Linked DNA regions of Homo sapiens: all the other regions are reported to be linked to region 3. The links are microRNA targets in miRTarBase. Many come from high-throughput screens and were not tested one by one. Region 3 holds a microRNA gene; each other region holds the end of a gene's coding sequence.

The links. The annotated mature microRNA hsa-miR-1297 reads UUCAAGUAAUUCAGGUG and lies in region 3 at 2,801-2,817, shown strand. An mRNA with a match to its seed (bases 2 to 7 or 8) in the 3' UTR can be bound and repressed. Matches are read on the target gene's strand: a 7mer-m8 pairs with bases 2 to 8, a 7mer-A1 pairs with bases 2 to 7 and ends in A, and an 8mer does both.
Region 1: the mRNA of ARMH4 is a reported target of hsa-miR-1297. Seed matches in the 3' UTR shown: 8mer at 1,986-1,993.
Region 2: the mRNA of CD55 is a reported target of hsa-miR-1297. The part of its 3' UTR that is shown has no 7-base or 8-base seed match.
Region 4: miRTarBase lists CREBZF as a target of hsa-miR-1297. Seed matches in the 3' UTR shown: 8mer at 3,832-3,839, 7mer-m8 at 3,430-3,436 and 7mer-m8 at 1,888-1,894.
Region 5: miRTarBase lists MFHAS1 as a target of hsa-miR-1297. Seed matches in the 3' UTR shown: 8mer at 3,050-3,057 and 8mer at 4,407-4,414.

What each region holds. Positions count from the first base shown.
Region 1 is chr14:57,999,874-58,006,282 of GRCh38, reverse strand. It overlaps ARMH4 (armadillo like helical domain containing 4), which reads left to right. Exons shown (of 8, transcript NM_001001872.4): 7 at 1,101-1,235; 8 at 1,479-5,522. The coding sequence ends at 1,547. Among named protein-coding and RNA genes, the nearest start is that of SLC35F4, 140 kb to the right of the region's middle.
Region 2 is chr1:207,359,147-207,365,552 of GRCh38, forward strand. CD55 (CD55 molecule (Cromer blood group)) reads left to right here. Exons shown (of 10, transcript NM_000574.5): 10 at 400-1,820. The coding sequence ends at 464. Among named protein-coding and RNA genes, the nearest start is that of CD55, 41 kb to the left of the region's middle.
Region 3 is chr13:54,308,389-54,314,797 of GRCh38, reverse strand. It overlaps MIR1297 (microRNA 1297), which reads left to right and starts at 2,750; the gene lies at 2,750-2,826.
Region 4 is chr11:85,658,011-85,664,419 of GRCh38, forward strand. CREBZF (CREB/ATF bZIP transcription factor) reads right to left here. Exons shown (of 1, transcript NM_001039618.4): 1 at 1-6,409. The coding sequence ends at 5,801. Among named protein-coding and RNA genes, the nearest start is that of CREBZF, 3.9 kb to the right of the region's middle. RefSeq lists enhancers at 5,743-5,982, 6,093-6,382.
Region 5 is chr8:8,782,734-8,788,817 of GRCh38, reverse strand. MFHAS1 (multifunctional ROCO family signaling regulator 1) reads left to right here. Exons shown (of 3, transcript NM_004225.3): 3 at 2,763-5,464. The coding sequence ends at 2,796. Among named protein-coding and RNA genes, the nearest start is that of CLDN23, 84 kb to the right of the region's middle.

The DNA of each region.
Region 1 (6,409 bases), not on the chromosome of region 3:
TATGTATTTTGCATGGGTAGACTTCTAAGAAGGGCTTCTTGGGAGGCAAACCATTACCTGTGTTCCCCCATGAAAGGGCTATAGGTTAGTACATACCCTGTTAGCCCATAGGAGTCTTATTGGCCAAGGTGTAGGGATCACTCTGAGTACAATGGCCTTTCCCTGAGCTTAGGTAGGTCCTGAGGTACTTACTCAAGTCCAGGGATCATCCTGCTCTCTGAGGATAAAGGTATCCATAGTGACACCTTGGAGACCCTGGAGACATCGATGAATTTGACACTTCCAGGATCTTTTGGAGGTATCGTGTTGTTGGCAGTGATCTTTGTGTACTTCTCTGCCACTTCCTTTCTTTGGGGCTGGGACATTCAGAATTCCCTCCCAACCTCCAACTTTGTCTTGTCTGTTGGGAAGGTGATTCCATTCACAGAAATCAGTCCATCCATTTTGTGTGCACACTCTCCCCTTGTCCTTGTCTTTTCTGCCTTTGCTCCAACATCTAACATTCCTCCTCTTGCCTTTGCAGGCCTTTTTTTTCCTTGTTTTCAGAAGCCCTCCCCTTTTACCCACAAGCATTTTCATCTTTCTTTTCTTACTGTAATGCAGCCAAGACAGACAGAGAGGGAGAAGAGAGGACCACCACTGTCAAGGCCCTCCTTTTAGCCCCCAGCAAACACACTATTCCAGAGGACACTTTGACCTCCTTTAAGCTTGACTCTGGCTGATATTTCCAATTTATAGCATTTTAGTAGTCCTGGCATTCTCAGAGGCTTACTTCATCCATCTTTAATACAAATTATATTTCTGTCATCAGAACCTGAGGTTGACAAATGTGCATAAGCTAGTGGCTGGAGGTGCCACTAGGTCTGGCTGATTTATTTCAATACTTCTATGTATTTGAAATATCCCCAAAATAGGCCTGTCTCTCTCTCTGTTGCCTTCTCCCTAAAAAGTTACTGTATTTTAGGCTTAGTTTTATCTTACAACAAAGCAGACAGGAGAATTCAAAGTGTCTAAAAACCTGCTGCCATCCAGCAGAAATGAGAAACCCAGGGCGGCGCGCTCTGTTTAGCATCCTAATGTGTGTTTCCTTTTCTATGCAGGCTGGTTACATGTCTGGGATGCTGGTGCCTGTAGGGGTTGGGATAGCTGGAGCCTTGTTCATCTTGGGAGCCCTCTACAGCATTAAGGTTATGAATCGCCGAAGGAGAAATGGCTTCAAAAGGCATAAAAGAAAGGTATGGAACCAACAACAGCAAAACCTAATCAGTTTCAGAACATTCTTTGCTTATCTAATTTACTTAATAAAGCACACGGGGTTTAATGATGCTTGGGTGGTATTGACGTGCCCAGTGGTCTGGATTAGCTGCTGTAGCTCCTGCCTTGGCTTCGTTTGTTAGCATGTCTTTTAAAGTGGGCCTGTTTCTCAGCTTTGCTCTGTGGCAGAAAGAGTTTAATGCTTTTCTGTTTTCTTTCTCTAGCAGAGAGAATTCAACAGCATGCAAGATCGAGTAATGCTCTTAGCCGACAGCTCTGAAGATGAATTTTGAATTGGACTGGGTTTTAATTGGGATATTCAACGATGCTACTATTCTAATTTTTATTTTGGAGCAGAAAAAAAAAAAGAACAACCTGCCACATTGCTGCTATCAGGCCGTTAGTCCTAGTGTCTGCTGGGTGCTGGGTAGTAGATTTTTCTTGTACTGAGCAGAAATGGCATGTTGTATACTAAACGTATCATGCAGTATTTGGTTTTATTCTGTAGTGAATTTTCCACAACCGTGGGCTACAACTCATAAATATGCAACATATATGTTTTTCAGTAGGAGTTGCTACATTAGGCAGAGTAAATATTTTGTAGTTTTCCACAGTGTCTTTTCCTTGGTTTGAATTACCTGCATTGAGAATAATGATTGTTGCCACCAAGGCATGCTTGACTCTGAGATATAAATCTTAACAAAGAATAACTTCTCAAGATATACTCTACCTACTTGAAACCACAGGGTTGTGGGCCATGGTACATACTGCATTTGCATCAAACTAGCAGTAACTCAGAATGAAATCATTTTCATTAAGAAGCTCTCTCAGCATATTAGGATTATATGTAGATTTGTATGTATTTTGCATTATGTACTTCAGTCTCCTAGTTTTATTATTCTCACCTTCCGTTTTATTCTTGGCGAGGAAAAAAATGCACTAGAAATAATACATTAAACTGACTCTTAGTCTTAATGTACGTTTGCTGTCTTAAATAGTGTGATTGAGTCCAACAGACTCAATCATACATGTCATACATGTTTATGATTAAGAGATATTCTTTTTGTGTGCTAGTTGATTTTGCCGAGAAAAAATGAAGAAGAATTCAAGAATGAGATGAGGGTAGGTAAGCTCTCAGAGCATTTCTGTCTGCCATTTGGTTCTATGCTTATGTGGCTGCTAATGTGACTAATTCAGAGTGTTGTATTTCCACATCTGTGGACTCCACCATGGAAAAGGTGGGCTACCATTGGTCCTTATATGGCTTTATTAGAAAAATAGACATTCTATCGTTTGTCTGCCCAGTGGCCAGAGTCCTGGTGAACAACAGAGCTCATGGGAAACCAGCCTCTCTCAGGGCACCCCGCTATGAGGATATTGAAATATGTTCAATCATTTCTCATCTCCCTTGGAATGTAATTCCCTGCCCTATACAAAATAGGATATTCCAATGCGCTATTTGAATCTAGGGATTGAGGATTTGTAGTTGAGTTTTGGGGTAAAGGCTTGGCTCATTGCCATGGAAGAATAAAAGTTATTTATTAATAGTGCTGTCACTGTGGAGTACTTGTTGGTGTTTATTAGAAGTTGTCTACTATGTTCAAGAAAAGTTGCACAGTTATTCCTCAGAGCTACTATGTGAGGTAGGACATATGTTTTTATTCTCCCATTTGACTGAAGATGGAACTGAAGCAGAGAAGTGAAATGATTTTCCAAAGTTGTACCCAGAGAGAATCAGCGTGAGAACCCACTTGGACCCAGCCATGCACCCTTATCTTCAGTTCAGTAACCTTTTCATAGACTTTGGTGGAAGCAGTGACATTTCAGGGTCCTTCTTTAAAACAAAGGTTCTAAGGGAATAGCAGGGAATAGCTGCCTGGTCAAGGAACGTTTGATGTGAATTTCCATCTTTGTTAAATGAATGATGCCTTTCTAATTTCTCTCTTACTCACACACAAGTTCTTTCCTTCCCCATCTCAGTTATCAGTTATTTCCTTTACAGTCATACATTTGAGTATCACCTCTATGGAACTAATAAACCTTCCTAGAATCCGTTTTTGAATAATGTCTGGCTCACAAGAACATTTTCATCAAATAATTTTAACTCTTTTTGCCAAGAGATGTAAGCAAATATGTGAAACTGATCAAGAGAAGTGAAAAGCTCTGTACAGTCAAATAGAAGTTAGCAACTGGCAAATTAGCTCAAGGTCAGATTTTAAAAATAGAATTCAGAATCATGACACTCAGAAGTGATTTGTAATTTCACGAGTAGAGACATCCTGATATTGCATAAGGGATGTTTTCCTTTTCTAAGAGCAGCCCTTTGCTGTAAGTGTTTCTAAGGTTGGGAGTAAGTGAGCATGGTGTGGCATTACTGTCTTTGTATTCTTGACAAACTATTTGTTGAGAATACGTCGTAGGCCACTTAACTGAGTAGCACATGGGTGATACTAGTGGCCATTATTGCCTTGGGCTACTCAATCTATAGTCTTAACTAAACCATGGCTAATAGGTTGAATCTTCAAACTGTAGTGTAATAAATTCCCAAATAACAGACCCATATTTTCATTTCTCAGAGGTCCGTGAGGATGACATGTATGTGAATTTTGGCTTAACACAGTATCTCTGTGGTCCTTTTTGGGACACATGATTTCTTAAAGGAAAAGATTATACTTAGAGTACATTTCTGTACAAACCCATTTAAACATCTGGATTGAGTGGAAGGTCGGTGGATGGTACAAATGACATGTTTATTTTGGCCATTTTCCTTGCTGCTGGTGGCTGTGGAATAATGATTTTCAGTGGTTGGCTTAGATTATTAAGAGGATCAGAAAAGGTTGTCATATTTTAAACAAAACCTGGGATTAGAGATGCTGCTACGAGATGGAAGTGCTGGCCAGTGGTTATATAGTGGTCCAGTTGAGAAGTAGTAAATCAGGCACTTGTAGGTTTACCCAAAATAAGTGACAAGTATGCTTATATTTGCACAATTAAAATAGAAAGTCAACTTTTTATTCAAACAACTAGGCTTAAAACATTTAACAGTGAAACAAATAAAGCTGTCTGGAAAGGAGGGCTGATTCCTGCAGCTTCAGTTGTGAACACCATCCCCACTGGACTGAGTTTACCCAGCCAGAACTGCCAGCATCCCACCGCAGGGGCAGGAACTAGGTCTTCTTCTCGGAGGGAGAGGCAGTGTTTCCAGAATTTGCAGGCTCATAAAAATCACCTGGGACACTTGTGAAACATACAGATCTCAAGGCCTTGCCCCAGACCTGATGAGTTAGAATCTCCAGGGAAGGAGCTTGGGGTATTCATGCCCCAGCAAGCTTGGGAACACAGCTAGGAGGGATCTATCTAGAGAACCACTTCCTTATGATAGAGACAAGGTCATTTAAAGTCACAATGAGATACCACCTCACACCTATTGGGATGGCTATTATTCAATAAAACAAAATATAACAATTGTTTCTGAGGATGTGGAGAAATTGGAATCCTTGTATACTGTGGGTGGGAATGTAAAATGGATAGCCACTGTGGAAAACAGTATGAAGATTCCTCAAAAAATTAAGATAGAACTACTATATAATCCAACTATCCCACTTCTGGGCATATATCCAAAAGAATAGAAATCAGGATCTTGAAGAAGTATCTGTACGCCTGTGTTCATTGCTTATGCTTATAAGCATATTATTCACAATAAGCTTATAAGTATTATTCACAATAGCCAAGATATGGAAATTGCATTGATAGATATGCAAATATCTATCAATAGATGAATGGATAAAGAAAATGTGGTATATACATACAGTAGAATATTATTCAGCCATAGGAAATAAGGAAATTCTGTCATTGTGACAATATGGATATACATGGAGAACATTATGCTAAGTGAAATAAACTAGTGACAGAAGGACAAATGCATGATTGCACTTCTTTGAGGTATCCAAAATAATCAAACTCATAAGGGCAGAGGCAAAATGGTGCTTGCCACGGGCTGGGCAAAGTTAAAGGTGGGGAGATGTTGATTAATTATGTTTCAGTTATGCAAGATGAATAAGTTCTAGAGCTCTGCTGTATAACATAGTGCCTATAGTTAACAATATCGTACTGTGCAGTTAAAAATTTGTTAAGAGGGCCGGGTGTGGTGGCTCACGCCTGTAATCCCAGCACTTTGGGAGGCCAAGGTGGGCAGATCATGAGGTCAGGAGATAGAAACCATCCTGGCTAACATGGTGAAACCCCATCTCTACTAAAAATACAAAAAATTAATTGGGCCTGGTAGCGCGCCTGTAGTCCCACCTACTCGGGAGGCTGAGTCAGGAGAATCGCTTGAACCCGGGAGGTGGAGGTTGCCATGAGCCAAGATTGCGCCACTGCACTCCAGCCTGGCGACAAAGTGAGACTCTGTCTCAAAAACAAAAACAAAAACAAAAAACAAAACAAAACAAAAATTTTTGTTAAGAGGGTAGATCTCACATTAAATGTTCTTAACACACACACACACAAACACACACACACACACACACACACACACACAAAAGAGACAAGGAGAGCAGTCCCCTGTAGGAAGAGACACTTTCCCTGGTCATGCTATCCAATAAATCACACCTGCTGTGGAGAAAGGAGAAAGGAAAACAAGGAAAGAGAAAAGGATGGAAGCTACTAGAAAAAGAATAGAAGGCTGGGATGGAGAGAAAAGGGTTTCTCCCATACCCCTGATGTCTTTTTCTCTAATTAGAAAAGACAGTGCTTTTCTTTCCAACCTCTTTAGTTTTTTCTTTCCCATAAGCTGTTTCTTTCAGTAGCTGCTAGCTTAATTTATATGCAATATTTGGAGTTAATTAGTATCCCAGGGTAACAGATTCCCTTAGCGATGCCTTAGCTGTGCCTTCAGCTGATAAACTGCCTCAAATACAATTTTCCAGAAACACTTTCTTAAAGTACCTGTATCTCTTAACATAGGTCAAAACTGTATGAAGAAATTTTAAAGCCAAGTTTTAGAACACATTTAAAGTAATTTTTGAAGAGTCAATTAAAAGTGGTTTTTCATTTTATGATTTTTTTCCCCAAATGCTAAGCGTTAAAAGCCAAAACATTTTATATAGGTATCCGAAAATTACATAGAGTGCATGGAGCATACTGAATACCTCGC
Region 2 (6,406 bases), not on the chromosome of region 3:
CTGTAAAACTTTCTGAGTGTCTTCATCTCTTAATCTTCTCTTCCACATGTAGTAGTATTCAGGGGTTTTTATTTATTTTTATATTTTTTTAACATCTCCCACACTTAGGAATTCATTGACTTTTAATCTGAAGGTACCTTAATTCATTCTAGCTTAGCCACTGTTCAACTCGAGAAACTAAAAACTCCACGTCACATTTTAGTTGTTGCTGTAGCTGATAAACCCCACCTGTAGAATCTTGTCCATATTCTATTACTCATTATTTTTTTTGTTTTGCACCCCAAATTAACTGATTCTTTTTGGTGATTTATCACATAGTAACTAAAAATTTATATTTATCACTAGTAAATAAAATCATTTTGATTTTAACTTTTTTTTTTTTTTTTTTTTAATTTTCAGGGCACACGTGTTTCACGTTGACAGGTTTGCTTGGGACGCTAGTAACCATGGGCTTGCTGACTTAGCCAAAGAAGAGTTAAGAAGAAAATACACACAAGTATACAGACTGTTCCTAGTTTCTTAGACTTATCTGCATATTGGATAAAATAAATGCAATTGTGCTCTTCATTTAGGATGCTTTCATTGTCTTTAAGATGTGTTAGGAATGTCAACAGAGCAAGGAGAAAAAAGGCAGTCCTGGAATCACATTCTTAGCACACCTACACCTCTTGAAAATAGAACAACTTGCAGAATTGAGAGTGATTCCTTTCCTAAAAGTGTAAGAAAGCATAGAGATTTGTTCGTATTTAGAATGGGATCACGAGGAAAAGAGAAGGAAAGTGATTTTTTTCCACAAGATCTGTAATGTTATTTCCACTTATAAAGGAAATAAAAAATGAAAAACATTATTTGGATATCAAAAGCAAATAAAAACCCAATTCAGTCTCTTCTAAGCAAAATTGCTAAAGAGAGATGAACCACATTATAAAGTAATCTTTGGCTGTAAGGCATTTTCATCTTTCCTTCGGGTTGGCAAAATATTTTAAAGGTAAAACATGCTGGTGAACCAGGGGTGTTGATGGTGATAAGGGAGGAATATAGAATGAAAGACTGAATCTTCCTTTGTTGCACAAATAGAGTTTGGAAAAAGCCTGTGAAAGGTGTCTTCTTTGACTTAATGTCTTTAAAAGTATCCAGAGATACTACAATATTAACATAAGAAAAGATTATATATTATTTCTGAATCGAGATGTCCATAGTCAAATTTGTAAATCTTATTCTTTTGTAATATTTATTTATATTTATTTATGACAGTGAACATTCTGATTTTACATGTAAAACAAGAAAAGTTGAAGAAGATATGTGAAGAAAAATGTATTTTTCCTAAATAGAAATAAATGATCCCATTTTTTGGTATCATGTAGTATGTGAAATTTATTCTTAAACGTGACTACTTTATTTCTAAATAAGAAATTCCCTACCTGCTTCCTACAAGCAGTTCAGAATGCCATGCCTTGGTTGTCCTAGTGTGAATAATTTTCAGCTACTTTAAAATTATATTGTACTTTCTCAAGCATGTCATATCCTTTCCTATTAGAGTATCTATATTACTTGTTACTGATTTACCTGAAGGCAATCTGATTAATTTCTAGGTTTTTACCATATTCTTGTCATCTTGCCAATTACATTTTAAGTGTTAGACTAGACTAAGATGTACTAGTTGTATAGAATATAACTAGATTTATTATGGCAATGTTTATTTTGTCATTTTGCTTCATCTGTTTTGTTGTTGAAGTACTTTAAATTTCATACGTTCATGGCATTTCACTGTAAAGACTTTAATGTGTATTTCTTAAAATAAAACTTTTTTTCCTCCTTAACCACAGTTATCACAACTAGCAGTTGTGATAGTTTCTAATTTCCTAATAGTTTCTAATATTAGGAAATTCTTTGAACTTTCCTAGAAGTTCTAAGAGTAGGCACATATCCATCCACCTATTCATTCATTCATTTGTTAAATATGAGGGCCCGCTCTGCCTATTCTGTAATAACCCAGTGCTTCCAGGGATAGCAATAACACTGGCTCAGCTATTCAGAAAAAAAGCTGAGTGCCTACTATGTGCAAGTTGTCATATGCTAAAATGTGAGCTTACCAAGATAACTGCAAGTGTCTGCCCTCAAGTTGCTTATAGTTTGCCACAGGAAGACCAAAATATATACTTATTGAGAGAAAGAAGATAAAGTTACGAGTGTTACAGCCCCGAATATGGTGGGTGCTTAAGCTGTTTGTTAAGCAGTTGAGTGGCAGGGAGGGAGATATTCAAGGCAGAAAGCTGATTGAGAAAGCAGTAATAGATGAGATTATAGTGGCAGGATGGTCGAAGTAGGAAAGGCTTAGAGCAAGGGCTAGACTATGTCATGTGTTCTGTGTAGAAGTGAAAATTTGTAAGCTCTAGACTTTTTATTCTGCTCGATCTAATTAGAATCAGTGAGCATAAAATAGGTTTCTAATAGCAAGAACTTGCTATTTAGATAAGGGTAAAAGCGGAAATACTATTAAACAGTCATTTACCTTGAAGAAAATATAAACAGTAGGCTTGTGAGGGTAAAGATATTTTCTTGTAGGATTTATATTTACCGTGTATCCTGTAGTTATGAGGTTGAGTGGTTTTATTTTTGCTTAAGATAACCTCTCCTGTGAGATTTTACTTTGATTGCAAAGGTTGTATTGCTTTTCCTCTTGAGACTGATGTATTTGTTACAGCAAGTTATACCTGCTCACTGTAGAAATTTGAGTTTTATAATATTTAGCCCCCTATCACTGTCACTTTTCTGGGAATACTTGAACATGAATAATTTTTGTCTTGTCACACCCTAGCCCTGTTTGCTTTGGTTAATGTCCAATGTGCAAATGCCTCATTTTCCTCCCACCCATCCTGAGTGTTTTCTTCCTCCTTACCGAAACTAAAAACAGCCCCTTCCCTGAAGGTACTGCTTCCTTTGCAGCCTATTCCAGTGGTGGCTGGTTTATTTTCATCCATATGACTCATTGTTAAGAGGTGGCGGAGGTGTTTTCCTTGTTCCTTTGTCATGTCTTCCATCTCAACCCCCACACACATCTCTTTAAAAAGAGTAACTGTCCATTCACTCTGGTAGGGTAATTTACTAAAATGTCAAATGTTTTTCCTATAATTCTCCTTGGTGAAAAGCATGGATTCTGGAGACAAATCGGAGCCCTGGCATTTATCAGCTGCAGGACTCAAGGGATGTTCCTTGTCAGTGTACCTTAGTTATCTATGTGTAAAGTGGGCCTAAAATCAGTACCAGCCTCATAGGATTTGCAATGAGAATTAAGTTAATACACGTAGAGCTTAAAATAGTGCCAGCCATGTAGTAAGTGCTCAGTAAGTTTTAGCTCTTTTTAGTGCACAGGTGGAGAGATTGCCTTAGGTGGAAGCATGCAGGGCTTCAGTACATACTAGGAGGGAACTGTTGCAGGTGGGTTGGAGATGCCCATGGTGGCAGCTTTTGGAAATTGATTTCACATTTCTTCTGTTTTCTCAGGGACATATACATCAAGGTCATCATAAAAATGATGACACATGAGGAGGTGTTATGTTTGAAGACAGGCAGAGAAGGAAAGGACTAGAGACATTTAGTCAATTAGCAGGCAATGCTAAAGACCCAGTTGAGGTGAGTGCTCATGAATTTAGAGTGCAATCATCAAGCTTCGTTCTGAGTTTTTCTGCAGTCATATTTAGCTTTCTAGATACAGTCTCAGAAAAAACCAGTTGCTTGGATTTAATCATGATTGGGTGTTCCCAGGTGAATTTGATGACGTGAGTTGAGCATGTGCACAAGGGAGTGATTAAAATGATGGACCATAGAATTTAAGCTATGTGAGAAGGGAAGTGAAGACATATGAGTGGTAAGAAACAATGAGTAACAGGATCAATATTTTGTAGACCTTAATGGGGTCATGTCATTGTTAGACTTGGGGTACTATTTAGGATGAACTAGAATGGTAATATGCAGTAGTGAGAAATAAGAATGCGTCAATTGAGGGTAAAACAGAATTGGCAACCAGAGGACAAAGCTGTCTACAAATACACTTCCCCTTCATTTTGGGCACAAAGTTAGACACATTTCCTGGCACTCTTGCAGTTAAGTGTAGACATAGGACTGAGTTCTGGCCAAAGGAACGTGATCAGAGATGTGTAGCATTTCTGGGTCTGGCCCTAAAACATCCCCATATGTGATCCTCCTTGCCTCCTTCCCTACACTGAGTTGATGAAAGTGACTGTAGTAACCTAGTAAGTCATGTGCTAAAGATAACAGAACCACAGAAAGGAAGGAGCTTGAGTCATTGCTTTGAGGAGAGCTGTCTGCTGATCAAGAACACCCACTTTAGATTTCATGTGAAGAAGAAATAAACTTCTGTAATGTTTGAGTTCTAACATTTTGGGGATTGGTGTGTTACGTTATTGTGGTTGACATTATCTAAACTAACACTGAAGCCTTCTAGATTTTGGTGATACAAGGGTTTAAACAGAACTATGGTTGTGAGAAGTTGAGATAAAATGGTGGACAAAAGTATTGGTGCGGAGGAGGCCATGGAACATCTTAATTGATACTGAAATCACCAAGAAGCATGGGGATTCATGTTAGAGAGTGATACTGAGTCAGGGGCTAAAATCTTCACGAAATGAGTGGTTTGTACATCTGAAGATGATTGCAAACAAGAAGATAGCAGGTGCTATATTCTGATGATACGTGACTCGAAGGAAAGGGTTTTGTGGAAAGGAAGGAGGACTGGTCTGCAAATAGCAATGATGAATAAAATAGGGCACCAACTTCACCTCTATGCCTGGTACTATGTGGAATGAAAGTGCAATGAGATATTTTTGCCTATCAGAGATTTGTTTGCACATTCAAACCCACTGTATGATCCTCTTCCACCCCTTGTTATTGCAATCCCCCTACTTTCTGGTCACCCACCCCTGTCTGTTGAGGGATTTGGAACTGGCTCACTGTCTCCCAACCATCCTACAATCTGGTATTATCCATAATTATTTCACATTGACAAGGATGACTCCTTATAACATCTGTGCCTCTGGTTTTATTGACCTTTTGATTTCTAATGACCTCCTTCACTCTACCTGAGTCACTCATCTCCATGGAACCTTCTTAAATCACTAATTCAGGCATATTTTCTTGCTCAATATAATCTTTTCCGCTTTCTAGTTTAGTTACTGCAGTATGTTCATCAACTCTCCACTTTCTTCCTATTTATAAGTCTCCTACTGTGATGGATATTTTCTGTTTGTTCATCCAGGACCACTCTCTAGCACACTCCAACTTGCTGTGACCTCAGAGGCTGACCTATAATGGAAGCTGTGGAGGGGAGAGCTGCATTCCTTCTAATTTTTGTTTTGTCTCAAAACACTCCACAACTTCTTATTTTATTTCACTTTTTTTTTCTACCATCCTATCACCAAAGGATGGCTCCCCTTCCTTTTGACCTTTTCCTCTTTTAGGAACTACACCTTTCAAAGGCTATCAACTCAGATCACATTATGTTTATGGCCCTTTCCTGAAGGTAGTGCTTGTAGTTAGTGCTCTGGTCTACAAGGACACCTTTTCAGCATTTTCATTTTTACGGCAGACTCTTACTTTCTGGCAATGGTTTTGGAGCAATTTGAGGACTTTGCTAGCTCAGCTTTTTTCACTTTCATTGAAGTCTTTCCACAGACTGCCCTTGCTCACCACAGAGGCTTCTAGGAGCAGTGTGAAGGACTCCTGGGTTGTTTTTGTTTTGTTTGTTTTCTTATAGGCAATTTGAAGTAGGTGCTTTGTCTTCTAGTTATGTTGAGAATGTGGTTTTCATGTGACCAGACTTCCTATTGGTGTGGCTGTGGAAAATCAGATGTTTTTATATATTATTGGTGGGAATGCAAACTGATACGGCCATTTTATAGGGGAATTTTCCAATATCTAAAAAAAACCCCACACATACGCATTTACCCTTTGATCCACCAGTCTCACATCTAGAAATGAACTCTGAAGATATACCTCCAATAATATGAAAATATACAGTACAAGGATATTCACCAAAACATTGTTTGTCATTGCAAAAGACTGGAAACCACCTAAATGCTCATATGTAGGACTTGCTCAATAAGCTATGTTATATCCAAACAGTGGAGCATTATGCAGCTCTGAAAAAAGAATGAGGAATATCTGTATGAACTATTATGAAGTATTTCTAGGATATATTATTAAGTGAAAAAAGTAAATACAAAAGACTGGTATGCTACTTTTCATGTGAAAAAGAAGAAATAAAAAATACACATCCTCGTTTGTACAAAAAGAAACATAGGAAGGATAAACTAGAAACAATGAGATAGTTATATACAAGGTATAGGTGGAAATGATGGAGAAGATGGGAATTCCTTCTAATTTTTGT
Region 3 (6,409 bases):
TAATGATTAATAACGTATATTATGAATTAATATTACCATTGATATTATTAAGACTGATGTTTAATAATTAATAATATTAAGACTGTTTAATAATTAATAATATTATTATTCCTAATACCGCAGGGGATGTACACCTACCTGTGATAGTTTCTATTATCCAGGGATGGTGAGCATGATATTAGTTTTAATATCACAGTAGGTGTACACTCACCCTGTGACACTGATCCTAATATCCAGGGGGTAGAGTATGACATGACTCCCAACATAGCAATGAATGTACAGCCACCCGGTGATATTGCTCCTAATATTCACGGAAGAAGTGTATGATATTACTCCCAATACCGCAGGGAGTGTACACCTCTTCTGTGATATTGTTCCTAGTATCCTGAGGGGGAGAGGATGATAATAATTCCAGTATCGCAGGCTGTGTCCACCCACCCTGTGATATTGTTATTAATATCCTGAAAGGGAGAGGATGATATTACTCCCCATGATAGGTATTACTCCCCATAATAGAGCAGGAGGTGTACACCCACCCTGCGATATTGTTCCTAATATTCAGAGGCGGAGAGGTTGATATTACTCCCAATATCGCAGGAAGTGTACATCCCCGTGTGAGATGGTCCTTAATAATATTCCAAGGCGGAGGGGGTGATATTACTACATATATCGCAGAAAGTGTACACACCCCAGGGATATTGTTCCCATGATCCTGGAGGGAAGAGGATGATATTACTTTAAATATCACAGACGGTGTACACGCCCCCACTGATATTGTTTCTAATTTCCACGTGGGAGAGGAGGATATGACACCCAATATCGCAGGGAGTAGAAACACTCCTGTGATACTGTTCTGAATATTCAGGGAGGAAGAGGATGATATTACTCCCAATACAGACGGGTGTACACCCTCTGTACACGGAGGGTGTACACTCGTCTGTGAAATAGTTCATAATTTCCAGAGGGGGAGATGATATTACTCCCAATATCGTAAACAGGCTGTGAGTCCACCGTGGGTCGTAATAACCAGGATGGGAGAGGGGCTGGCTTTTACTCCCCGTATGGTGGGGGGTGCCTCACCCCTTTGCGATGTGGGTCTTAATAGCCGGGGAGGGGGGGGGAGGGGCTGGCTCTTACTCCCCGTATTCACCCTTATCTGGCCCCACCCGCATCCTGCTGATTGTTCCATTTTACAGAGAGCTGATTGGTGCATTTACAAACCTTTAGCTAAACACAGAGTGCTCATTGGTGCGTTTTCAGTCCTTTAGCTAGTCACAAAAGTTCTCCATGCCCCCACCTGATTAGCTAGACACAGAGTGCTGATTGGTGCGTTTACAAACCTTTAGCTAGATAGAGTGTGCTGATTGGTGCATTTACAATCCTTTACCTAGACACAAAAGTTCTCCAAGTCCCCACTCCATTAGCTAGACACAGAGCGCTGATAGGTGCATTTACAATTTTTTAGCTAGACACAAAAGTTCTCCAAGTCCCTACCTGTTCCAGAAGCCCAGCTGGCTTCACCTCTCACTGTCACTCACTGCAGGACTTTTCTGCACCTAGCCCGGGCACTCTGGCAGCCCAGAGCAAGCTCATTCCCTGATCTAGCCCAGCAGGCACCGGCAGGACGCACTGAGAGTGGGGCTCGTGGAGCCTGCACCCACCGGGAACCTGTGTTGGCCCGCGAGCACCACATGCAGCCCTGGCTCCCGCCTGCACCTTTCCCTCCACACCTCCCCAGGAACAGAGGGAGCCGGCTCTGGCCTTGGCCAGCCCCAGAGAGGGGCCCACATGGTGCAGCGGCGGGCTGAAGGGCTCCTGGAGCGCAGCCAGAGTGGATGTTAAGGCGTAGGAAGCGCCAAGAGCGAGCCAGGGCTGCTAACACGTTGTCACCTTTCAATAGTGTCTACTTCTAACCATTTGGAAAATACAATCATGTTTTGTAGTCAATTTGAAGATGACATACCCAGATTTTTCAATAGATTAACAACAGATTTGATAAATTATAGTAGAGTATCTCTACATATCCATTTTACCCCATGTTTATCTGATTTGCTCTTCCATGTTTATTTACATCACTTTTTACTTTTGCATTCTACCCAAGGGTATTTGCTGGAGTAGGTAGGAATGTTAACTCCCATCTCTAATAATTTCTGAAATTGCATGATCCCTAAGGAAAAATATGGTCATGTACTGTACTTCTATATTAATAATGCTTTTTACTTATGGAAATTTGACAAGCCATTGAAGGGTAGAAATGATTAGTATGTTGGATATAATGGAAAGTACTCTCTACTTAACTGATTCTTCATTTGTTTTATTGCATTAAGGGGAATAGAGCTAGCAATGAATTTACCTCTGCTTGAGTTTTATTCCTTTGATCTCTTGCTTCATGGAATCTAGCTCTTCCTTTCTTTTAATGATTCAGTAATTGCTTACCATTCCATTTTTCTATCCTTTGACCTAAGCTAACTAGTTTTTTTCAGTAGCATAACACTACAATAACTGTTATTTCTACTATTTCCCTTTAGAGTTATACAAGTATAATGAGGAGTCCATTGAATTGTATTTTAACTGTATAAATACACAAAAATGTGAAATGTTGAGAAGTGAGTCAAGTTTATATGTTGCATGTAATGTATCATACATAATGTGTTTCTCATCTTAGATTTTCATAGGACAACATCTTCAACCTGTAAAATGATATTTTGAGGAGAGCAGACATTTCAGTGAGTCTAATTTTAAAGTTAGGTGTTTATCTCTAGGGTTGATCTATTAGAATTACTTATCTGAGCCAAAGTAATTCAAGTAATTCAGGTGTAGTGAAACACTTCTAATTTTAAATTCAGAAGCACTGAAGAGTGAGTTGGATTATTGGCTGTAGCACTTACTTGATCCTCTTTCTTATCACCCTTGACTTTTAAAGCCTGGCTTTAAAAAAATATATGCTTCAGAAATTCATGTGCTCACCAGCATTTGATTCATTAATTTTGAAAGACTATTACAAAGGACTCTTAGCGATGATAAGTTTAGAGATACCAAAAACCCAAGTCTGAACTTTGACAATTAAAAGACATGTAAAAATGCCAGAATGAATCATAGGTTCCAAAGTAAATCTTGGGTAAAGGTGACATCATAACAAGCAAGTCATAGGCAAGTCACAATTGCTTTTAAGTCTAAATCCTCACTCAGTGACTTCTTCGATTTAAAGGTGGGGAGAGACTAAAGAACTTTCATTTTGTCAGTGTTACATAGGTTTTCAGTGTATACATTTGAAAGACTTTTATCTTTGTGATTCATTAGCAAGTGTTTCAAAAGGTTAAAGAGAACACAGATTTTATAGGTATCAAACTAAACTTCTATGTGTCAGGCCTCTGAGCCCAAGCTAAGCCATCATATCCCCAGTGACCCGCACGTATATATCCAGATGGCCTGAAGCAACTGAAGATCCACAGAAGTGAAAATAGCCTTAACTGATGACATTCCACCATTGTGGTTGGTTTCTGCCCCACCCTAATCTCCCCCACCCTTACAAAGTTTCTTTGTAATTCTCCTTATCCTTGAGGATGCACTTTGTGAGATCCACCCCCGCCCCCAAAACATTGCTCTTAACTCCACCGCCTATCCCAAAACTTATAAGAACCAACGATAATCCCACCACCCTTTGCTGACTCTCTTTTCAGACTCAGCCTGCCTGCACCCAGGTGAAATAAACAGCCTTGTTGCTCACACAAAGCCTGTTTGGTGGTCTTTTCACACGGACACGCATGAGGCACTATGTGACTAGGCACTTAATGTTGATTTTGGAGACCTAGGGATAAACTTAGTTAACTTTTTGGATATCCTCTTTCCTTTCTCCCTGCCTCCCTCCCTCTCTCCTTCCTTTCCTCTTTCTCTCCTTCTTTCTCTCATTTCTCTTCTTTAATATGTAACAGCATTTAGCAAGAGTTGGGTTAACATTTCTGGCATTATTATAATCACAATTTCCATCCAGTATTCCTTATTGCAGTGTATTTATGTGTGTGTGGTATAATGTGTATACCTACAGATACACACTAATATGAAACATATAATATATAATTTTATACTATGGTAGAATTGATACTAAAAAACACTGTTTAATATTAAAGAATTACTTATAAACTGAGTTTTTAATGCTTACCAAATTACATTCCAGTACTGATGTAAACTGTTTTCAAATGGGAAACAACAAAAAGTTACACATTTTAGTGCATTATTACCAAAATAAAATATATTTAGTTATCTTTGTCTTCCAATTTTTTATAGCTTGCTGTTTACTCTCTACTGTGTTGGCACAGTAGAGATTAGAAATACATCATTATGCTGTTTTACATGTAAATAATTCTGAATAATAATAATTCTGAATAATTCACCATTCCACTGGGGAAACAAGCCAGAAACTACTACTTGATATAGTCCTTAGATGGAACTAGAATTATTACAGGGAGAGGAGAAGGGAAAAAAGGTGACTTCAAGATAGCTAAGAATTTTAAAAAACAGAGAAGGGACAGAACAGCTCTGATGTGTTAGAGTGAGTGGAGAGAGAGCCCTTTTGCGAGAGAAGGGGCTCTTGGACTTGGTGGGAGGCAGTCTGCATGCAGATGGCTGTGTCCCCATCAGGGAAGATTTGAACAATTAGTCCAAGTGGTGGGTAAACAAGTTTCTAAGCAAAGAAAAAATAAATTTAGTTAAATGAGAGGAATAAGTTCAAGAGACCTGTTGCACAATATGGTGACAATGAATTGTATTCTTGAAGATTGCTGAGAGTAGATTTTAAGTATTCTCACTACACACACAAAATAGCTGTGTAAGGTAATGCATATGTTTATTAGCTCAATTTAACCATTCCACAATGTATACATACTTCAAAGTGTTATGTTGTACATGATAAATATATAAAATTTAATATGTCAATTTAAATAAATATGTTTTTAAAAATAAGAAAACATCAACCCTGAAAAAAAGAAAAAAATAAGTCACCAAATTTCAGAAAACAAAAAAAGAAATATGCTAAAAGTAAAGCAATGTAAAGCACATCTCAGGAAAGTGAGTATGCACAGACTTTGGTCCTACTGCATACTTCCACTTCTGCCATTTATTGCAGTCATTGCTTATTGACCATAAGGTTTTTCCCTCTAGAGTGTCGACTTGATTAGCCCTAGAAATATTCACAAGCCAGTACTCCCAGAACTCATTATTAGTGGCACATAAGATGAAACTTATTTATCATCTTAGAAATAATGTGTAAGATAAAAGAAGAATTATAGATAGAAATCACTAACGTTAACCTTTTTAACTTGCAATAATATAAATAAACCATTTTATTTTATTTATTTTATTTTCCTGAATGGATAGATTATTCATTACAAAATAATGGGGGTTTGCCTACTACACAGAGTTTATATAATTGTGTTCTTATATTATGGTCTACACACTACCTTCAGCAGTTTCTCCAGAGTCCTCTGCTAAAGGTATGCTAAATGAAAACCCAGGGTATTCAGGTGAGAACCTTGAATGAATCTGTTACACAGAAATGTTTGGAAAGTATGAGTAACACTCATCTGGGTACCTTTCTGAGTATCAACACTGAAATAGCAAATCCTGATAGAGTCAACCTGGGTAACTTACTGTTCCTTAACACTGTAATACTTACGGAGTTTAATTCACAGCTCTAGAGGCACCAAATATAATGGATGAGATAAAATGTAACACAAATACATGCACAAGTATATATGTACTTATACAATAAGAAAATAATATATTGACATAACTGTATTGTTTTTGCTGTTTACTACCAAAGCTGCAGACTAGATGACAGTGAACACTTGACCAGGCATAATCATGCAGGGCCTCCTCCCTGGACCCCCTTTCTCTTTTGGCCTGGTGCTGCTGTGTCACTGTGTTAGTCTTATTCCTTCTGCTTATGTGTTCTATAAGCTTAATAGAGTGCTGCCCCTTGTAAGTTCTTAATAAAGACTTGTTAAATTCAATTGTGCTTGATTTTCCCCTTTGGCTAAACAAAACAAAATAACACACCATCCAGGGCTGTGAAGAAAGGAATGCTTTTTGTTATTATTATTTTTATAGCTTTTCATAGGTAGCCAGATTAGATTCAAGCCATTTCTTGTTTAACATCAAATTCAAAGCTACCAATAACCAAGCTATATCATAAAATGTAAAGGTACATCCCTCTATATTTTTCTTCATTTCCCCCCCACATATATATTTTAGCTTTTGTGCCTTTCCTCGCCTTATTACATCTGCCTGAAACATCTTTCTTCTCCTTACGTTCTTTTTTTAATTTAAATTTAAAAAAAAACTCTAGAAGTTATTGTGTTACAGATGGTATTTGGTTACACGAGTAAGTTCTTTAGGGGTGATTTGTGAGGTT
Region 4 (6,409 bases), not on the chromosome of region 3:
GCTGTTTATTTTACAGGCTAAAATATCAAGATGAAAAGCTCTGATCCCAAATCATCCATTTTACCTATATTCTGTCACTTTTACTAAAAGCAGAGTTCTACTCATCCCAGTGAAAAAAACAATGAATTAAAAGTAATTTCTGGCGTTAACCCAAGTACCGAGTTAAGACTCCTTAAGAATATAGAATTATGTAATCAACTTAGATAATTCAAAGCCCAATGATATAACTAAGTTCTTTGACGATTGAGCACACATTGTTTCCTTACTTATCTTTAAACATTCCTAGTCCAATTACTCCCTAGCATAATACCATTTATAAATGAGGATGAGTTTACAATGGTTTCTGTAACCAAAAAGTATTTCTAATATCTGTCCTCTGCCACATATTTTTAAATTATCTTTTCCATTAGCAGAAATGGGCAACATAAGCAATAAATCATGTTAAGTCTGTTGCTACAAATTTACTTTGCCAAAATTTTTGTTCAGAGGGCAGATATCTGCATTATTTAAGGACATTTAGTCATTTGTAGCTAACACCTGAAGTAAACTACCCTCAATCAATTTTTATATTTCAGTCTAGTCACTGTAGACAAACTATTTAAATCTTTTATAATTTACTTTGTGTAGTTATTTGGCTTAAAAAAAAAAAAAGAGGGCTCACATTCTATTTAAATTAAGACAATATATTTTATAAAGCCCAAATTATAGTACACTAAGAGCCAGAGGGGTCTAGGGAATTGATCTCAGTGGGTATACAGCAAAGACAAAATTTGGAGGCAGACGCTAAAGGAAGTTGAGATAAATAAAATTCAAATCAGTGTATTAACAGAACTACACAAATGTTTACAACACAGTAACTACACTTTTCAATTAGTTCATTGTGAAAACTGAGCAAAATATTTTCAACAATTTTGGGTCAACAAAAAGTATGGAATATTTTAAGACAATAAAGAGTGACTGGTGTTGAGAGTACTGAGGCTACACAGAGGTACTGAAATTCAAATCTGAAAAATACTGTGCTGGCCACACAACACTACAAATTTCTAATGGAAGAATTCCCTTTTTGATCCGCAGCTTAGGTGGTAAGTAAATAAAAAAACAGCTCAGAAAAACAGCAAAAATATTAACATTTAGGAGTCTCAAAACTTTGTATTGGCTGTGAGTCTGGGGGAAAAAAACATAAATGTCATACTACCAATTAAACTTTCAAGAGTCATCAGATTATTTAGCTTTAAAATTTTACTAAATCAGACCTTAAACTACACATTCAAAATGCTGAACTAGATAATCACATATTAAAAAGGTAATGACTCATTATCAGTGAATTACCCAGTCTGTTCTATCAAAGTAGTAGTTAAGGTCACCAAATAATGTTGGTGCCTTTGGTTCTGGAATTATAACTAGCTGTACTGTAGGAGCATCAGCGCCTAAGTTTTAAGCCAGTGGGAATACTCTGCTGCCTGGCTTCACAGGCACTGAATACACTTAAAATGGTAAGAAACTGAATGGATTTAATAAGTTTTGAATAATACAATAACCAACTGTATATTTATTATGAAGTAAAAGCCAATCTCCTACCCAATCCCTCTTCTATCAGCTGCACATTTCCAAGTAAGTGAGATAAAATGACTCAATCTAAACCACGTGAAGGAATGTATTAACATAATCCAACAAAAATGAAATAAAACAATCCAGAGTTTTGAGTGTTTTTTCACACTTGTAATAAACTGAAAAAATATTTCAATTAAAACAACCATATGCCACAAAAAGCCACTCCCATCATCCACAATACTAAAGTCCTTATACAACACTAGATAAATTTTTATATAAAACAGTAGAAACTAGCATACCATTAATTAGAAACCTCAAAATATTCAGAAAACAGTATCAAGTACTCAAGAGAAAGCTCAAGAAGCCAAAACCTCAAGAATCCATACATCCTGGTTGTTACCCTAAATTGTAATTAACTACCCACACATTTAATCATAATCAACTTTTTCAAAGATATACAAATCAATGCATCTATTTAAAAGGACTACTCTTTATAGTTCAGAACTTTACATTAACTTTTATATTCTACTCAGCAGGGTGTCTGTCTGTACTCCAAATTAGCTCTCATGTTCCAGGAAATAAATACAAACTCATATGCCTTGTGATCACTGATGGCCTGCTTATGTAATTCTAGTCCACTAAATGTTAATTCCATAGAATATGCTCTTGATTATGTAAAAACTCTAATTTCTTGATGAAATACTGTAATTCTCCAAAGGTTACAATTTTGTAAAGATATGCAATAACTGAGTATCACTCCCATGAAAGACAAAAAAAGTATAATTTTGTTCCAAGATTAACTTAGTCTCATGTATCTCTATTAAGTCTTTCAAGGATTCCAGAGAATCTTTTCATATCTCCATTTCTGGAAAGTGAAATCAGTATAGAAGTAATTTGGGAACTTGAAAATGGCATTCATTTTTTTCAGCAGATGCCAAATTTTTGACCGACATGGTTCTCACAATTACTTTGTTACCAACAGTCCAGTCAGTTAACAGGTTGTAGGAAAAGATTCGTTTTTGCAGACACTGCTAAGCTGTTCAAAGAGAAGAGAGAGAGATTAATTTAGTGATTATAAAATGCACAAATATTTAAAATATTTTGAACACTTCTTGTTGGATTATATCAGAGGTGTGACTACATTTTAACAAAAGTGGACTTTTTAAGATAAGTCTGGTCAAAGAAGTGCAGAAACAGTAAGTCAATATGATAGAAATAGTAGGTCAAAATATGATGTGTTAGTTCAATTAATGTATGAACTCCTGCCACCATCAAAAGACAAATATTAAAAAGCTACATCTTTAGTCTAGTTCTGTATTTTACCAGAGGCACATTTAGAAGAAAAACAAAAGGGTCACCCAAATACTAAATTGTTTTCAACCATTACAGTAAATAGAGCCAAACCTAGAAATTTCAAAAACAATCCATTTTATATTCCAGAAATCTCCTTTATCCATGTGCTAATCATCCAGAACACAATTTTCTAAAAATAGTAAGACAACAGTTTCACATTAATCATAACTTTTTTAATTAACAAGTAGTGAATCGGACACTTTAAGATATTGTTTACTACATACTGAAATAAACAGATCTGTTTAAATTCAGAAACCCAAACATTTACAGTAAAATGTGCTTACACATAAATATGACCAAATTTATTTAAAGCCCCTATTAGATAGATCCTAAGTACATGCAATTACCATGTAAAAACAAGACCATGAAGTTGATGTAAAAAATGACAAAATCACTAAGTCACCAAAACTAGAAAAAAAAAAATGAAATGGAAACTGAGAAAAGACAGTTAATAAAACATAAGGAACCTAACAAAGCAGCTTTAAAAATAGGCCATACTAATCCTTCCATTTTCAAAAGTTCTTATCAAGTAATTCCAAAAACTGCCATTTATAAAATGACATTCTAAAAATCTACACTTGGAATTTCAAAGTATCTCAATTCAGAAAGCTTTGACTACTGTTTCTCCCCAGCCCACAATTTCAAATAATGCAGGAAAAGTATTGACGTAAGGAAGAAAATACTCCAACAGAATGTTATAGTTTTTAGAAAAATGAACTTACTGCTTTCCAGAACCTTTTAAGACCCACAGTCAGCATTAACAATCATTTTTCCTATTTTCATCCATTATTTTCCAATATCATGTTAGAGATGAATAAATTCTTTGAGCCCATAACTAAAAGATCAACAAACCTGGTTTTATTATGACACCATATTTTTGTCATTGGTACTGCACAAAATTATATACAAAGAAATATATACAAAATGTTCAAGTATTAGTTAAATTTCAATTCAAGGCTTCTGTTTCAAAAAAGCTACATTTAACATATTTCATAAAGATAGCACAAATTAGTCATTTCAAATAATCTTTCCAACTACTTTTGGTTTATATATATATATATATATGTATATATATATATAATTCAGTAGGCACTAAAAACCCATGCAGCTGCATTGTGAGGGGCTTGCTCCTGCCCTTAGGTATAAGCAGGTTCATCACTCCAATTTGTGAGTTTGGCTACTACCCATTCATGCTCAAGTGCAGTAGTAGATGATTTTACAAAATATGCTGTGATGCACTGGAAACCAAAGACCAATTCAGGTCTCAAATCGTATTATCTAGCAACAAAACATTTACAGTTGTGCAAGAACAAGGATTCCATTTTCATAACCAAATAACAAAATAAAACATTTTATGTGTAAGATAACTTACATCTTTGGACTGCTGGAAAATACTTTTTAATTATGAACATGTTAAAAATAAAAAACAGCAGAAGCCCTGATATTACCTCTTTTTCCTCATTTCTTATACTACCTTTTAAAATAAAGCAGGAAATGTGGCCAGCAGCTGGTCCCGTCTCTTCTGCCCCAACAGCTGTATCCACTTTAGCACAAAGAAAAACAAGGATGCTAAATACGTATATACTTTATCAAGCAGTGATGTTTCACAAAGAATTTCTTAATGCCTCTTACACTGAAGGACACCATAATTCAATTTATACAACTGGTTAATAGATTCAAGGGAATAAATCCCACCTTAGGAAAATAGTACCAATCGTGTCATTTAAGTGGCCAGAACCACTCAATTTAAAAAATTATTTTAAAATAGGACAAATACTTTTGAAACACAGAGAATAAGATTCTTTGTGAAGCCTCACTTTACACGTTTTCATTCACATTTCACAACCTTCAATATCTAATCATACATATATAAATTTAACCTAAAATTTTAATACAACAAAAATAAAGATGTTCAACAATTTATTCAATCTCAGTGATAGGGTAATCACTGCTGGTCCTCAAAGAAACATTAGCCATTCTTATTCTCCAATTAACTAAAACGCAGGAGTCTCATATGTATGTTAATTTCCAACTTCTCTAATGGTGAGACATTAAAATGTTACTCCATTATAGACTGTTTCTATATCTCATACTGAAAACTAAAAGGCATTGTTGATATTTAAGAGATACCTGTCACCTCCAGCAAAATAACTATCACATTTGTGCATGCCCCAAATACTTAACTGTCAACCTCTGAAAAGTTGCCCTAAAATCGGAATTCCAATTTGCACCTTGTACAACTCGGAACTTCCATTCAACTTCACCTGTTTCACTGTCTCCAAACTGTCTCTCTATAAGCAGGTTTCAGTGTACAGTTGGAACCGATGTCATCCAAGGCCATGTCCACACTGGGGACAGAAGAGCTAGGTACACGCAAGTCTGAATAAGGGGACACATTAATAGCTATTTCAACCAGAAGAGGCATCTTAAATACATTCTTGACCAGCACAAGTCTGTTTCCAGGGTGGACAGGGCCCAAATTAGATTTCCCTCCCACCTTCCAAAACAGAAAAAAAAAAAAAAATCACACACACACAAACTGAGATGTTGCCCATTAAAGTAGACAAAGCAGCAGAGCATGAGCGTTACGGGAAGAGATGGATCCTTACCAGGTTGTGAGGCGGGAACGACTGTTCTGTAACCCCTACAACGGAGCCTGGCAGGAAGGAAATCACCTAAAAAAGAAACTGTCAGAGAGATTTAATAGTCACATGTTATCATTAGGAGTTGGTTACTGTGTCACATTCATGCTTTTAGCTAAACACTTTAAGATTCAATATTACTTTTTTTCTCTCCTCTGAAATGTGTCCGGTGAAGATGTCCCACTAAGGTAAGTTTGACATGGTGTAAGGGAGTTGAAAGGGGTAAACGCGGATAAAGAGCAGATTACTTGACCCTACATTTTAAGAGAAGACGACGCCTTCCGGGCGCACGCCGAGCAGAACTCCACCGACACCTTATCCTTGTCCACATGGAGACAGACTCCTCCCGCCGAGTCGTCCTCTTCCAGCAGGTCCTGCTTCTGCTTTCCCACCGGCAGAGCGTAGTCGTGGTCACCGGCGGGCGAGTCTCTGAAGAGCGAGGTGGTCAGCCGCAGTCCCACGCCGCTCAGCCGGCTCAGCAAGCGAGCCAGTCCAGTCTCGTTGGCTAAGACTGCCCGTAGGTAGCGACTCTCCTCCTGCAGTGCCTGTACGCGTTTGCCCAGCTCCCGATTCTCGGCCCGCAGCTCCTGGTTCTCGGCTGCCAGACCCCGGACTCGACTCTCCAGCCCCATCACGTACTCCTTCTTCTTCAGTCGATTAAGGCGGGCAGCGGCCGCCGCCGCCTTCCGGGGACTCTTTGTCGCCGCCTGGTTGTTGTCGTTACCGCTGCCGCCACCGCCGCCTCCTCCTGGGGACTTTCTCCGCCTCTTTTCGGCGCTGCCACTGTCACTGCTGCTGCTGCAGCCTCCGATACCGTTTAACAGCCTTTGCAGCAGGTCAGAGAAGCGCTGCATTTCAGCAGC
Region 5 (6,084 bases), not on the chromosome of region 3:
CTCCTACCCAGTTAAGGCCCATTGGTCGCTGAGGCCAAGGTCATATGTCAGCTCCTCTGGGGAGCCTCCCGTAACCATCCTAACTGTAACCAGTCACTCTGTTCTTCATGTCTCCTCAATACTTTTTGTTTCTTTGTTTGAGACAGAGTCTTGGTCTGTCACCCAGGCTGGAGTGTATTGGCACAATCTTGGTTCACTGCACCCTCCGCCTCCTGGGTTCAAGCAATTATCCTGCCTCAGCCCCCCGAGTAGCTGGGACTACAGGCATGCACCACCACGCCTGGCTAATTTTTGCATTTTTAGTAGAGACAGGGTTTTGCCATGTTGGCCAGGCTGGTCTCAAACTCCTGACCTCAGGTGATCTGCCTGCCTCAGCCTTCCAAAGCAGTGGGATTACAGGCATGAGCTGCCGCACCTGGCTCTCCTCAGTACTTTTTATATACCTCTTTTGGTAATGATCTCATAGTATCTTGGCTACTTTTTACCTGTGGCTTTTTCATCACATCTGACCCATCATTCATTCAACAGATCTTTGTTGAGTAATTATCCTCTAGTAGGCATTGGGCCGGGTGTTGAGGATACATAAAGAACTAAATCAAATCCTGCCCTCCAGAACCTAATAGCCTCTTTGGAGAAGATAGGAATCAAAGCCATAACCAGGCAAACTTATCAGAGTCTAATTATAATTGAAACATGGTACCTGCCATGATAGGTGTATGAACAGAGTCTTGTAAGCACAGGGAAGAAAGAACTCTACCAGGAAGAATCAGGAAAAGTTCCAGGAAGTCGTACTTGAGATGGATCTTGAAGAAGGAGGACAAGTTTATGGAGCTAGAGAGGTGGGGAGAAACAGAGAAGGTTGGTGATTTTGATGGTTGTTTTCTCTAAGATCCCAAATGTGGAAAAAGGCATATAGATGTGAAACAATTTTCAAGCTGGTTGAACAGTGGGATTTTCCGTCTAGGTGTCCTTGATTAGGTATTCTTGTGTTTCTCAGTCTTACGTGTAGCCCGGGGAGCAGACTGTCTGCATTTCTGAAGGTCTGTCAGATTCAGTGGGAAAATGTTTATGTAACACATCTCCCACGTGAACCCAAAACTCACACCACCAAAGTTAGCTGCTAGGTTGAGACGTGTGTTTTTACACTGGCGTCCTCCTTACAGTTAGATTGATTATATTATTAGTTGAATTTGAGGCAGTTTTCAAAACCCTCTCTTCTGGGAGTTTACTATATTAATAGGCATTCAAAAAATTCTCGTGGCAGAGTGCCTTAGAAATGTGAAACTCTTTCCTAGGGCTCCAAATATCCAACTTCTCTTTGAGCTTTGGAGTCAGATCACCCTAGTGAAAGGCCTGGCTCTGTCACTCGCTAGTATGCACCCTTGGGGAAGTTATTTCATCTTTTGGAACCTTAGTTCCCTTCCTAGTAAGATGCTGAGGCCGGGCGCAGTGGCTCACACCTGTAATCCCAGTACTTTGGGAGGCCAAGGTGGGCGGATCATGAGGTCAGGAGATCAAGATCATCCTGGCTAACATGGTGAAACCCCATCTCTACTAAAAATGCAAAAAATTAGCCGCGTGTGGTGGCGGGCACATGTAGTCCTAGCTACTCGGGAGGCTGAGGCAGGAGAATGGCATGAACCCAGGAGGCGGAGCTTGCAGTGAGCCGAGATTGCGCCACTGCACTCCAGCCTGGGCAACAGAGCGAGACTCTGTCTCAAAAAAAAAAAAATAATAATAATACTGAGTAAGATGGAGCTTACATGGTGGGATTATTAGGAGTTGAAGATAAATAATGCACTAGAGTGAACAACCTAATTCCTGGCATGTAGTTAGTAAATGAGAGGTTTTTGGTTTTTTTGTTTTGTTTTGTTTTGTTTTGCTTTGCTTTGCTTTGTTTTGGTGATGTCGTTATTATCATGCTTGAATGAGCCCATGACTGAATCTTGTATGGACTGGAGAAGTGTTTAGGCAGATGCTGAATTATCAGTGTCCATGAAATCAGCGTCTCTCCTAATGAGAGATGGGGGATTGGAGGAAACGAATCGTAACTCCTTTTTCCTTTCCTTTCAATGTCTTTGTATATTTTATTAAAAGTTGCTAAAAAAAAAAAACCACTTTCAAAAACATCCCATCACATGTCATTGTAGGGAAGCAAAAATGAGAAAAACACTTGATATTTTTTCCTCTAACCATTTTATCGGAACTGAATCCCGCTTTATTTGCTGAGGCTGCAGTAGTTTATTCATTCTATATTGATCAGACTCCAGATTTGCGTGGACAACTTAACTTATAACATTTTAAGTAAAATCATGCATTTTAGGCAGACAGACATCTCACTTTTTAGTATATATTCCTTCTTCTAGAGGATTATTTGGTGTGTGTCTGCGTGTGACCGTGTGTGTTTATTGAAAGGAAACAGTTCCGTGTTTAGAGTTTTGGGTTGTTAGTTAGAGGTCTAGTTAAGCTATAAAATTACAGTGGAATAAGTGATGACAGCCAGTTAGTACAGTTCCCTCTTATAGCTGAACTGAGCTTAACACACCAACAGAAATGTTTGGCAAATAGACTGCTAAAATGACTCTTTCCTTTGTGGGGACATAAGTTGCCTGACATTTACATGTTTATAATGAGTCCTGGAAGTAGAAATGAAAATATGTGCAGAAAATAGATTTCTATCATCACTTCCTTTTCTTATTGAGGGTAGCATTGTCCAGTACGTTTTTGTCATCTCTGTGCTTTCTTGTTGTCCACCCATACAGGAAGAATGTTGGTGAAAAGCACAGAAACCAGTGACGTTTGTGGCTGTGGAATTTCCATGGAGAAAAGAGAGCATCTGAACACCTGGACCATCTTTTGCACCTGGCAGACCCTCTGCACTCACCCCAGCGTGTTCTGTGAACTTGAGTGACAACGCGTGCTTGCAGGGTGCTTTTTGGACGACTGGGGAAGAGGTGGGGAGGGGGTGGTGGGGGGAAGCATGGACGAGAACATGGAGCAAATGTTTTACAACCTGAACCTCAGAACTGTGATCCTCCAAGGAGCGCGCTACTTGAAGAAAAGAAAAAAAAAAAAAAAAAGTCGAATGGCTTCTCAGGGATTTTGTTTTCCGTGCACATATAAGCCATAGTTACAGTACAGGTGGCAGTATTTAGAGCACTCAGATTTCAGTTCTGTTAAATGTGAAAGAGGGATCGACTGACGTTCATTGCTGTTCCATAACTAGTGTAAAATATGTATATGTTTATCTTTATTTTTATAATATGCAAATACATTTAAATTTATACAGTTTGAAGCTTCTAGCGTTAGTTCACACTGGGTGCAATATTCTGCATGAGAACTGTGCCAAGATGGGGCTGATTTCTTATTTTAGTATAAGACTTTTTTGTTTTTTCTTTATTCTTTAATCCTCTTCACATTAAAAAAAAAATCTCTCTGTTAGCCCATGGATTAAGTGTTGGTTCATAGAGATTGCCAATAATCAGAAAGAACCTTAAATGTGCATTTAAGACAGTGTCCCTTCCCTTCTTTTCAATGAAGGTCCCTGCCTATATAAATCATCTGGCACGCTGGTGGGAAATCCTTTGCTCTTCCAACGTGTTATTAGTGCTGGGCAGAGATGGGGCACACTCAGGGGCCAAAGAGGACAAAAAGTCCATGCAAAACTTGAGTCTTTTAATGGCTTAAGATAATCAGGAGTCAGTTCTGAATCTTACAAAGTGCTCTGCTTAATAAGTACCTTACTTAGCAGAGCACTTTGCAAACATATTACTTATTAGCAGAGCTCTTTGTAGACCTTCCACATCTGGCTGTCAGATCTTAAGGTTGTGAATTTAGGCTCCAGTTACATTCACTGGAGAGCATAATCCCACACGGGTTATTTATAAATACAGAGCCTCTGATTGGACGGTCTCCTGCCAAGAACTAGTAATACCCTTGTTTTAAAATCTTCACAAGGTAAAACTTAAAAAGCCAACCAAACAAATTGCTCTCCATTCTACTTTTAATTGGGCCAAACAGCATATGCTACAGTAGTAACATGTTTTTCGGAGAGTGTAAAAAACTCTGTTTACATTTGCCTCCTCCGTGGGTTGATCGAAAATGTATAAAACTGACTGCTTCTCGCCAGCCTCAGACAAGAAGAGTGAGTTGCTGGTACTCGCTACTCTTTTACTTCTTTTGTAAAGTATTGACTCTTGGAAGGCTACAGTATACAAAGTCTCAACATGTTTTTTAAAAGAAATAAGGAGCAAGCGACTGCCCTGCTAGAAATCACAAACCGATTTTTGTAGAATATTTTGTGCCCCAGGCATTAATTTCACTGACTCCAGAACCTGCAGTTCAGAGAATGATTTCTTATGATGATAAAAATCGAATGGGATCAGACGATGTTTGCATTTTTTTAATACTTGAATAGGACACCTCAAGTTTGAGATTTCATTTTCTTTTAGAACACAGTCACAAGATTAATCTGGTGAATCCTTTTGTCACAGTTCTCGTGTGTGTGTGCGCGTCTCCGTGTGTGTGTGTGTGCATGTGTGTAAAACTGAATGGTCACATTTAATTGCTTTTTGGACCATTGAATAGTTGGGAAGTAAGAATTTTTTAATTGGCATGAGACGGTTCCTCAACTGTTAAATTAACCAACTTTGACCTGTCTTTAGAAAAAGGCTTATTTGTATGATTTTGGGCTAACTCCCCGGGGACCATATTAAATGACAAAAATGCTCCTTTGGGTGACACACCCTACAAAGTATTTGCTGTTACGAACATAAACGCCCACATTCTTAATATCTAATATTTTTGACCAGTGATGTTTTATGCTGTCATCTGAACCCTAGAGAAGCAGTGTCAGAGGAAACCTTGGTGTCACATGTGTCTTAGCAAAAGGGTTACCATGATCGAGGGTCATGTGACCAAAAGATGCTCCAGAGAAGCTTGAGAATTTGTTTCAAGTTGGGAGGAGGGTTGGAGATACAAAAATCACTCTGCTCTACAGGACTCTTCAGCTGTCTATGCAAGAAATTCCGTTTTCTCTTTCAGCACCTGGAAAGACACAGCAGCCCACCGAGGCGATAGGTGATTCACTAAGCACAAGAGGAATGTTTTCTAAGCAAGGCGTCCCTTGCCTCTCAAACAAATGCCCTCCAAGTTTGTTAGGGTTTCTATTCCTGCAACTTGTGGTATCAAAACCACTTCCTGGAATTGTCAAAGCACTGCCAAAATAAATGTTTTTCCCCCTTCTAAGAAAAAAAAAATGACAGTGCTCATATTTGACACTTGTGTATTGGACTCTCTTTTGAATGAATAAAAAGGAAAAGGGGTTTGGTGTAATTCCTGATGGGGTGCGTGTTGTTTTTCATGCCATGGTTTGTGAATTTTAATTGTGGTTTCCCATTTCGTTGTTGTAACTGGGCAGAAATTAAAAAAGAAAAATCAATAAAAATACAAAGAAATGGTTAAACAGTTGTATTCCCAGAACTTAATTATTTCAGATTTTGTTCATTTGTTTTTACTTTTAATTCTATCAGTTAAGGAATGACTTTTATAGTTTTAGTCCTTAGTGGTACTGTTGGAGCTGTGGGAGGTGGGTGGTGGTAGCTCTCATCTGTTTGGTCTCCGAAGAGAAAACTAAAGAATCCCTGTTTTAAAACTGCCTCTGTTTTCAGGCTGAGGATATAACTTGAAGATCAGCTCTCTTAAATCAGAATCTTTTTTTTTTTTTCAATGATCCACTATATTCCTAAGTCACAGCTGTTGAATTTATGGTAGCTTTGGAAGTTCCCCTGATCTTTCTTTCAAAGGCTCTTAGCAGAAGTCCTGCTACATACTGCCTCAGGGTGCCCTATTTGCAAACTGGAAGAGCAGGCCCCTCAGGTACCCATCAGAGGATTTAGTACTCCATATTGTTTAAATAAAGGCAAAGAGAAGATAAGGAAGGACCAAAGCCAGGGTGTTAACGTGGTGAATCCATAACGGGTCTGCAGCAACCTCAATTCTTGCCTCCTCAGAAGAAAGAATTCAAGCGAGGGGCATAAGACAGCAGGAGAGACGGAGGCAAGTTTTAGGGCAGGAGGGAAAGTT